Regions from separate parts of the Homo sapiens genome. Here region 2 is linked to region 1. The links come from fine-mapping of genetic effects on plasma protein levels. Region 1 holds a variant in brackets. A gene starts in the other region. All regions are shown on their forward strands.

The links. A credible set is the group of variants that fine-mapping cannot tell apart. PIP is the chance, under the fine-mapping model, that this variant and not a neighbour inherited with it causes the effect. Protein levels are from antibody-based Olink assays in UK Biobank. Linkage for the fine-mapping came from a reference panel and not from the study's own genotypes, which makes the PIPs less certain.
Region 2: it holds the start of PRSS27, and the variant in region 1 is the best candidate, but not a certain one, in a credible set for the plasma level of the PRSS27 protein (UK Biobank, PIP 0.81).

What each region holds. Positions count from the first base shown.
Region 1 is chr11:126,372,004-126,376,003 of GRCh38, forward strand. All of the region lies in intron 1 of ST3GAL4 (ST3 beta-galactoside alpha-2,3-sialyltransferase 4), which reads left to right. Among named protein-coding and RNA genes, the nearest start is that of ST3GAL4, 18 kb to the left of the region's middle. The variant C/T (reference allele first, on the strand shown) is at 1,751.
Region 2 is chr16:2,718,052-2,722,560 of GRCh38, forward strand. It overlaps PRSS27 (serine protease 27), which reads right to left and starts at 2,173. Exons shown (of 6, transcript NM_031948.5): 1 at 2,064-2,173. The coding sequence starts at 2,109. RefSeq lists an enhancer at 2,443-3,010 and silencers at 2,744-3,503, 3,634-3,703, 4,387-4,509.

The sequences.
Region 1 (4,000 bases):
GTTCTTTTTTATTCCTTTGATTGTTTTGGTGGTGGTTATGATAAAATGCACAAGCACAAGGTTCTGTTGACCTGTTGACCGTCTTAACCCTTTTTATGTGTATAGTTCAGTGGCATTAAGTACATTTAGAATGTGCTACCATCCCGCCATCCAGCTCCAGAAATCTTTTCGTCTCGTCAAACTGAAACATCCTCCTGCTAGTCAATGGCTCATCTCCTTTTCCCCTCAGTCCTTGGCAGCCGCCATTCTGCTTTCTGTGTCTATGAGTTTGACTGCTTTTGAGTACCTCCTATAAGTGGAATGATACAGTATTTGTCCTTTTGTAACTGGCTTATTTCACTTTGCATAGTGTCTTCAAGGTTGATCCATGTTGCAGTGTATGTCAGAATTTCTTTTTTTCTTTTCTTTTCTTTTCTTTTTTTTTTTTTCTGAGACAGAGTTTCGCTCTTGCTGCCCAGGCTGGAGTGTAATGGCGCGATCTCAGCTCACCACAACCTCTGCCTCCTGGGTTCAAGCGATTCTCCTGCCTCAGCTTCCCGAGTAGCTGGGATTACACGCATGCACCACCACACCCGGCTAATTTTGTATTTTCAGTAGATACAGGGTGTCTCCATGTTGGTCAGGCTGGTCTCGAACTCCCAACCTCAGGTGATCTGCGTGCCTCGACCTCCCAATGTGCTGGGATTAAAGGTGTGAGCCATTCACCCGGCCGTCTTTGGATTTTATACAGCAAAACTCCATAATATTTCCTTTACATGAATTTCCTTTCTTTTTCAGGCTGAATAATATTCCATTGTACGCATAGATCACATTTTGTTCATTCATCCATTGATGGATACTTGGGTTGCTTCCCGATTAGCTATTGTGAATAATGCTGCTATGAACATGGGTGTACAAATATCGCTTTGATATTCTGGTTTCAGTTCTTTGGGGTATATACCCCGAAGCACAGTTGTGGGATCCTATCTTGTCTCTTGTTTTCTCTTTGCTTCCATGTTTTTTCTCATTGTTTCGTGGGAATACTGATATTATATATTCAAGTATTTGTTGATTACATGCACTGTACCTGACTTGTTTAAAGCCTGATGTCTTGAGTACTGTGCACCCCTGTGCCTGGCTGAGTAGTGGAGGAACTTTGAAAGGGTCTGTTCTGGAGAGGGGGTGCTGCTCTGGAGAGGCGGTGCTGCTTTGGAGATGGATTAATCAGGAACTTGGGTGCTGATTCTAGGAGGTACTGCATCTAGAAAGATGGGAGGTGGGGAGTGCAACTTCCCCAATTTTGCCTTTAACTTCAGATCCTTGGGGTGGGTGCATTGCTTCTCCTGGGATGGAGGGGTGCCGGGGAGCCCCTGACCAGGACCTGGAGCAGGTCCACACAGGCACTGGATTTGTCCTTTACTTTGGGCCCAGGCTGCACTCTTGATTCCACCTCCTCACACTGGCTTCAGCTTTCTCACCCTCAGAATGGAATTCAAAGCCTCTGCCCCTCCCAGGCAGACACCAAGGTATGATTTTCAAGTGGTTGGTGTCTTGTGACTGGCAGCTGATAAACGGGTGATACAGTGTTTCTATACAGGAGTCTGCAGTGCCAGGCTGCAGGGGCGGACGGGAGGGGGTCGTGGTGGGTAGCCTGTGGAGCCTGAGGGTGGGAACAGAGAGACTTCTTTTGCTGTAGGTGGAAGCCTGTCTGGCTCCTTTCCCTCAAAGGTCAGACAGCTTGAGAGATGTTTCCATCCTCCCATGCATGACC[C/T]TGAGGCAGTTAGCTGGTCAGTTACTCACTGTGCTCTCTGCCAACTCTAATGAGCCAGGAAGCCTCCCCGTGCCCAGGCGTGCTGTGATCACAGTGTTCAATGATGGGGTGAGGCTGCAGCGTCCAGCCAGGGACTGTGCCGCAGGGGCCAGAAGATATCTGACCTACTGTCACTGCCTCTTCCACTCTGTTCCACCTGCACTGGAGCGATGCTATCCGATGAACAGATCCATTTATTAATTCAACACGTTTGTATTGAGAGCCTGCTGGGTGCCGGGCACTATTGTCAACATGGGTAATACAGCAGCAAGCAAAACAAGAGAAACATCTTTGCAAGCAGGGGAGGGGGCCTGCAGTGTTGGGTGTGTGGAGTTGTTGCTGGGAAGTAGAGAAGCTGAGTAAGAGCTGGACAAAGAGGCCAGGCACAGTGGCTCACCCCTGTAATCCCAGCACTTTGGGAGGCCGAGTTTGGCAGATCACTTGAGGTCAGGAGTTCGAGACCAGCCTGGACAACATGGGGAAACCCCGTTCCTACTAAAAATACAAAAATTAGCTGGGTATGGTGGTGCATGCCTGAAATCCCAGCTACTTGGGAGGCTGAGGCACGAGAATTGCTTGAACCCGGGAGGTGGAGGTTACAGTGAGCCAAGATCACACACCATTGTACCCCAGCCTGAATGACAAAGCAAGACTTTGTCTCCAAAAAAAAAAAAAAAAAAAAAAAATAGAGAAAAGGAAAGCTGGATGAAGAGAGATAGCCAAGCCCATGTCTACGGAAAAGCATTCTTGACTGAGTGAACGAAAGTACAAAGCCTCAGAGGAGGGAGCATGCCTAGGTAGCCCCCTAGACCTGGTGAGGCTGGTGCGTGGGGCAGCCTCCATGGAGAGGAGTTGGGCAAGGAGGGAGGAGGTGCTGGCCAGTAGAGCACGTGTGTCTCTGTGCGTCAGAGCAAGGACCCGGGCTCTCCCCGTAAGTGAGAAGAGTCCATGGAGGTTTTGGGGCTGAGGAGGAGTTTTACAGATGACCGGTCTGTTCTTGGCACTTGCAATTAGCGGACCGTCTGTATCCGAGTGTTGATCGGGTGGATTCTAACCCTGTGGGAGAACTCCCCAGCCCGTAGCCTGCGCTCACTGTACCTGGCAGTTGTATTAATGACGTCAAATGCACAGTCCAGCTTGAGTCCCCTCTAGAACGTGGGCAGCGGACACTAAGCCGAGAGGAATCGCTGTGGGTTGGCAGACACTGTGGAGACTGACTCCTGGACAGGCTGTGGAATGTGTGGAAGCAGGTACAGCCCAGGCCCGCGCTGAAGTTCGGCAGGGAAGCCAGAGGAGTCCGCAGCCCGGGAGACCTGGCCTACAGCGGAGAGAGTCAGTCCATGCCAGTGGTGGGATGTGGCTGCAAAAAATGGTCGGATTCATGGAAGTCTGGTGTCCATCTGGCAGGCGTTAGTGGTCCCACGAATACAGCTGTGTGCCTTGAACACATACTGCAGAGCTTCCAGAGAGCACCAGGGCTGTGGGGGCTAGAGACTGTGTCTCGTGCGGAAGCGTGGCTGAGGAGGGGCTTGACAGGCTCTTCGTCACTGTGCGGAGCCTTCGAAGGACTTGGATGTGCTTGAGACCCCTTCCCCTAATTGCTGTGTAGGGCAGGGGTGGACATCCCGGGGATCGTGGAGTCTAGGGAGCCAGTCTGCACGGGATGGTTTTAGAAGCCGTAGGATGTGGGGGTTCTGGCTGAAGTAGCCAGAATTCCAGTGCCAGCTCCGCTCCTCACGAGCTGTACAACCTGGGCCGGTTACTGACCCCTTTCCCACCTTAGTTCCCTGGCTCTACAATGGAGGTAATTATCGTGTTGAACTCACAGGGTCGAGATCATATTTAATACTTGCACAGCCCTTAGAAGCATCTAGCACAGTGGTCCTCAGCATTTGGAAATGTCTGGAAACATTCTGTCACACCTGGGGAGTGGGATTTCCTTCTGGTGTCTAGTGGGTAGAGGCCAGAGATGCTGCTAAGCGTCCCACAATACACAGGACAGACCCCGCAACAATGAACTGTCTGGCCCCCAAAGTTAGTGGGGCAGAGATTGCAGGATCCTGATTCCTTTTCTTCCTTTTTTTTTTTTTTTTTTTTGCCCCTGGCTATGAGTAAGAGATCCTGGTTTCGCACAAAGTGAACGTGCAGTACATTGTTTCAGTTGTTAATTCGCCATGCAATACATCGTTAGTCACGTATTATTGTTTGTCA
Region 2 (4,509 bases), not on the chromosome of region 1:
TGCTCCTTCCAAGCCTGAGGATCCTGCTTGCAGAAGGGCGCGCACTGTCAGGCCTTCTCGCTCTCTGGGAGTCTGCAGGAGCTGTGTCTCCATGCTCCCTGCCTGAGCACTGCCCCTTCAGCGATGCCTCCTCCCCATGCAGATCCTTCCTTCCTAAAGTAGCCCTGTACTTCTCATTTAGGCAGAGTCTTCTGGTCTCTGAGTGCTTGCTCCCCTCACCCCACAATCTGGATGCCCTTCCCCCAGTCTCCATAAGTCCTAGTCTTTTTTTTTTTTTTTTTTTTAAGATGGAGTCTCACTCTGTTGCCCAGCCTGGAGTGCAGTGGCGCGATCTCAGCTCACTGCAAGCTCCGCCTCCTGGGTTCACGCCATTCTCCTGCCTCAGCCTCCCGAGTAGCTGGGACTACAGGGGCCCGCCACCAAGCCCGGCTAATTTTTTTGTATTTTTAGTAGAGAGGGGTTTCACCATGTTTGCCAGGATAGTCTCGATCTCCTGGCCCCGTGATCCGCCCACCTCGGCCTCCCAAAGTGCTGGCATTACAGGCGTGAGCCACCGCTCCCAGCCAAGTCCTAATCGTGATCTAGAGATCAAGGCCCAACTGAATGCTGCCTCCTCCAGGAAGCCTTCCTTGCTTGCTTGCATTGTCTACCTTGGAAGCCCTATACTCTCTCTTGAGCTCTCTGTCCTGATGGGAGCTCTGTCTACATCACCCTGGAGCCAGAATCAAGTCTTATCTTAGCCCAGGAGCTCCGAGAAGGCAAGGGCTGCATCTGGGGGGCCTGATCTCAGGGAATGTGTGGATGGACACAAGTGTGGCTGTGGGGGCTGATGGGAAATGGGGGATGTGGACAGCTGAGCCCTTCAGGGTGGGCGCCCTGTGGGGGCTGGAAGCAACAGCCAGGGGTGCCGGGGGTGTCAGGAGCATTGTTTGGGGCCTGGGCCTGTGATTCGCTGGTAGCTGGTGGGGATGGTGAAGCTTAGTGGGTACCACCAGCCAGAGACCTGGTGGGAGTGCCACCCTCGGGCTGGGAGTGAGGACGTGTCCAGGAGTCCAGCCTCTGGTCACAGCTGTTAGTGAACCGACTGCAAAACTCATTGCCAAAGAGTTTTGGCAATGACCTTGGTTCCTCACCCCGCTCAGGGGCAGTCACAGCCTTCCACCTCCTGTGCACATGGCTTGCTCAGAGGGCACCATCCTTGTGCTGGGAGACTGGGGGCATGGGGTGGGGGAGGCCGGGCCACTGAGGGGCCACTGGTGCCCTCCCACCCAGGAGAACAAGGAAGCCTGGAGTACTGGCTAAGCTGCAGCCTGGGATGACCTGACCCAGCCCTGGGAGGTGACTTGAGGACAGGGAAGTGTGGTGGCTGCCAGACTGGCTAGGCTAGCCCAGGAATGTGAGAGGTTTTCCCTGACAGAGAGTGTCCCGGCCCGCAGGGAGGGGCCTGGCAGGTGGGGCCCCCTGGCTGGCACCTGCTGTCCCTGACCCAGGACTGGGAGAGGGCACGGTGGCGCATCACCGGTTCCTCTGTCAGCAGGAGACAGGGCCCTCTGCCACCTACACCCCCTGCCCCCAGCTCTCTACTGAGCCTGCAGCCAGCCTGCTGGGGCTTCCGGGCACAGGCAGCAGCCCTCGGCTCGGCCACCCTCCCACCCCGAGTATGATGGTCCAGGCACTTGGAGCCTGAGTTCACATCCTGCACGTAGGAGGCCCCTGTCCTCACCTAGAGAATGGGGGGAGAGGCCGAGGTGGCAGGAAGCAGGGAGCCTGGCCAGAGCTGGCACACCAGTGCCCGCGGAGAGGCATGGGAGGAGGTGCTGCCCAGTTATGCCGGTGGGGTCCTCTGGGGCCTGTGCGCACACCTCCCACCCTGCCTCCCCACTTTGGACTCCCCACTTGGCACATCTGGAGCCTTCCCACCTGCTCAGGGGCAGGAGGGATGATGGCCTGTCCCACAGCCCCAGCCTGTCCCAGGGAGTAGGGGGCTGAGCCGGAGCCCCAGGCAGTGCAGCGGAGCCTGGTGGGGGACTGCACCACCAGGACCCTGCACCTTCACGACTCACCAAAACACAGCAGCAGCAGGAGCGGCACCGCCGCCGGCCGCCTCATGTCCTCAGGCCTGGCTGGGGCGCAGGGCCGTGGTCGGCGGTGGCAGAAGCGTTGGAGCACGAGCGAGGTGCAGGCTCCATGAAGTGGAGTTTTATGCTGGAGATGAGCACAGGCCCGGCTATGCGGCCCAACCCGTCGGCCCGGCCTGCCCAGCTCCTCTCCTCAGGAAGGAAGCGCCCAGAGCCGACTCCTCCGTGACCTAGCCCTGAACCCCGAGACCCCAGGGCAGACCCCTCACCCCAGCGCAGCACGGGGTGCCGTTGGCCTCGGTTCCTGGACCCTGAGCTGACCCAGACCCCCCAGCAGACCCCGAGCTGACCGCGGTGCACGCGAAGTCCGTCCAGCTTCATTCATTATTATTATTATTATTTTTTTTAATTTTTTGAGACAGAGTCTCGCTCTGTCGCCCAGGCTGGAGCGCAATCTCGGCTCACTGCAAGCTCCGTCTCCCAGGTTCAAGCCATTCTCCTGCCTCAGCCTCCTGAGTAGCTGGGATTACAGGCAGGTGCCACCACGCCCGGCTAATTTTTTGTATTTTTAGTAGAGACGGGGTTTAACCGTGTTGGCCAGGCTAGTCTCGATCTCCTGACCTCGTGATCCGCCCTCCTCGGCCTCCCAAAGCGCTGGGATTACAGGGGTGAGCCACCGCGCCCGGCCTCATTCAGTATTTTATTGAGCGCCGATGGAACACAGTGGGGCTGGGCCGCGCTGGTGGGAAAGTCAAGGCCAGGGGTGTTTGCGGGGCCGAGGGCAGGGGAGGCGATGGGACATGGGGCGGGGTCCGGAGTTGGCCGCAGCGACCCTCCTCCCGGGACAGCAGGCCCCAGAAGTTCCTCAGGCGCGCGCCAGCGCGGCCCAGGCGGCCGACCCGGGCCCCGGCTGCCATCCCTTGGAAGGGGCGGGGGCTTCCTGGCACCAGGCGGGGCGGAAGCGGCTCCGGGAAGGCCGGGCCGGGGTTACCGTTTCGGTGTCCCCGCCTGGCTCTGGGCGCGGCGCCGCGGCGGAAGAGGCTCGGGGAGGAAGTTATTTGGGGCACGGCGCTGACGTCAGAGACAGAGTGGGGCCGGGCCGTGGGGTCGGGGGCGCCGGACCTGTTTCCCCGCCGGCGCCGGGGGTCGGTACTCGCGGGCGGGGCGGGGCCGGGCGGCTCCGGGCGGGGCTGGGGGTGCGGCCGTTCCCGCCTCAGCCTTGTCCGCGCGCGTCGTGGTGCTGCCCTCTGGTGGGCGCGGGGCGCGGCGCGGGCGGCCAGGGGTGCAGAAGGGGCGCTCCCAGCCTCATGGTCCGGGCTCCGGCTCCCCGCATCGCCCTCCCTAGCCCCGCCCTCCCGCGTCTCCGCCTCCGCCTCCACCGCCTCCTCCCACCCTTCCCTCCCCGTCCAGTCCCTGGAGTTCCCGGGTCGGGGGTGGGAGGCGGGCTGGGCAGCCCCTGGGGGTCTGGAGGGAAGGAGGGAGGGCGAGGAGTGGGAAGAGGGGACTCCAAACGTATTCATTCATGTATTGATTTATTCATTCAGTCAGTCAGTCATTTCTGAGCAGATTTGAGCCCAATACTGTCCCCGGTTTGGGGAATACAAAGGTGACCCAAACAGACCTCACCTCAGTGTGAGAGAGAGAACATCATTTAGCAGAGAAATCTCTAATTATAAACCGCGACGGGCTGGGTGCAGTGGCTCACACCGGGAATCCCAGCACTTTGGGAGGCCAAGGCAGGCAGATCACCTGAGGTCAGGAGTTCGAGACCAGCATGGCCAACATGGTGAAACCCCGTCTCTACTAAAATACAAAATTAGCCGGGCTTGGTGGCGGGCACCTGTGATCCTAGCTACTCAGGAGGCTGAGGCAGGAGAATCACTTGAACTCGGGAGGCGGAGATGGCAATGACACGAGATTGCAACACTGCACTCCAGCCTGGGAGACAGTGAGACCCTGTCTCAAAAAAAAAAAAAAAAAAAGGAGAATAATAATTATCAACCACGGAAAGTGTTTCAAAGTGTCTGGGTGACCACATTTCTCCAGCACCCTATGGTCAGGTCACTGATGGGATCTCAGAGGCAGTCTTAGAGCCTCGCAGGTAACTATTTCCTCTTGGCACCTTTCTGTGTGTTCCTTGGTGTCTGCTCCCCAACCCTCCTTTTAAGCCCATTCCTCTAAGGGTGTCTCTGCCTTAAAATCAAGAAAGTGACAAAAGTCAAGATGCAGATCAGGGCCAGGTGCAGTGGCTCACGCCTGTAATCCCAGCACTTTGGGAGGCCGAGGCAGGCGGATCACGAGGTCAGGAGATCAAGACCGTCCTGGCTAACACGGTAAAATCCTGTCTCTACTAAAAATACAAAAAATTAGCTGGGCGCGGTGGTGGGCGCCTGTAGACCCAGCTACTCTGGAGGCTGAGGCAGGAGAATGG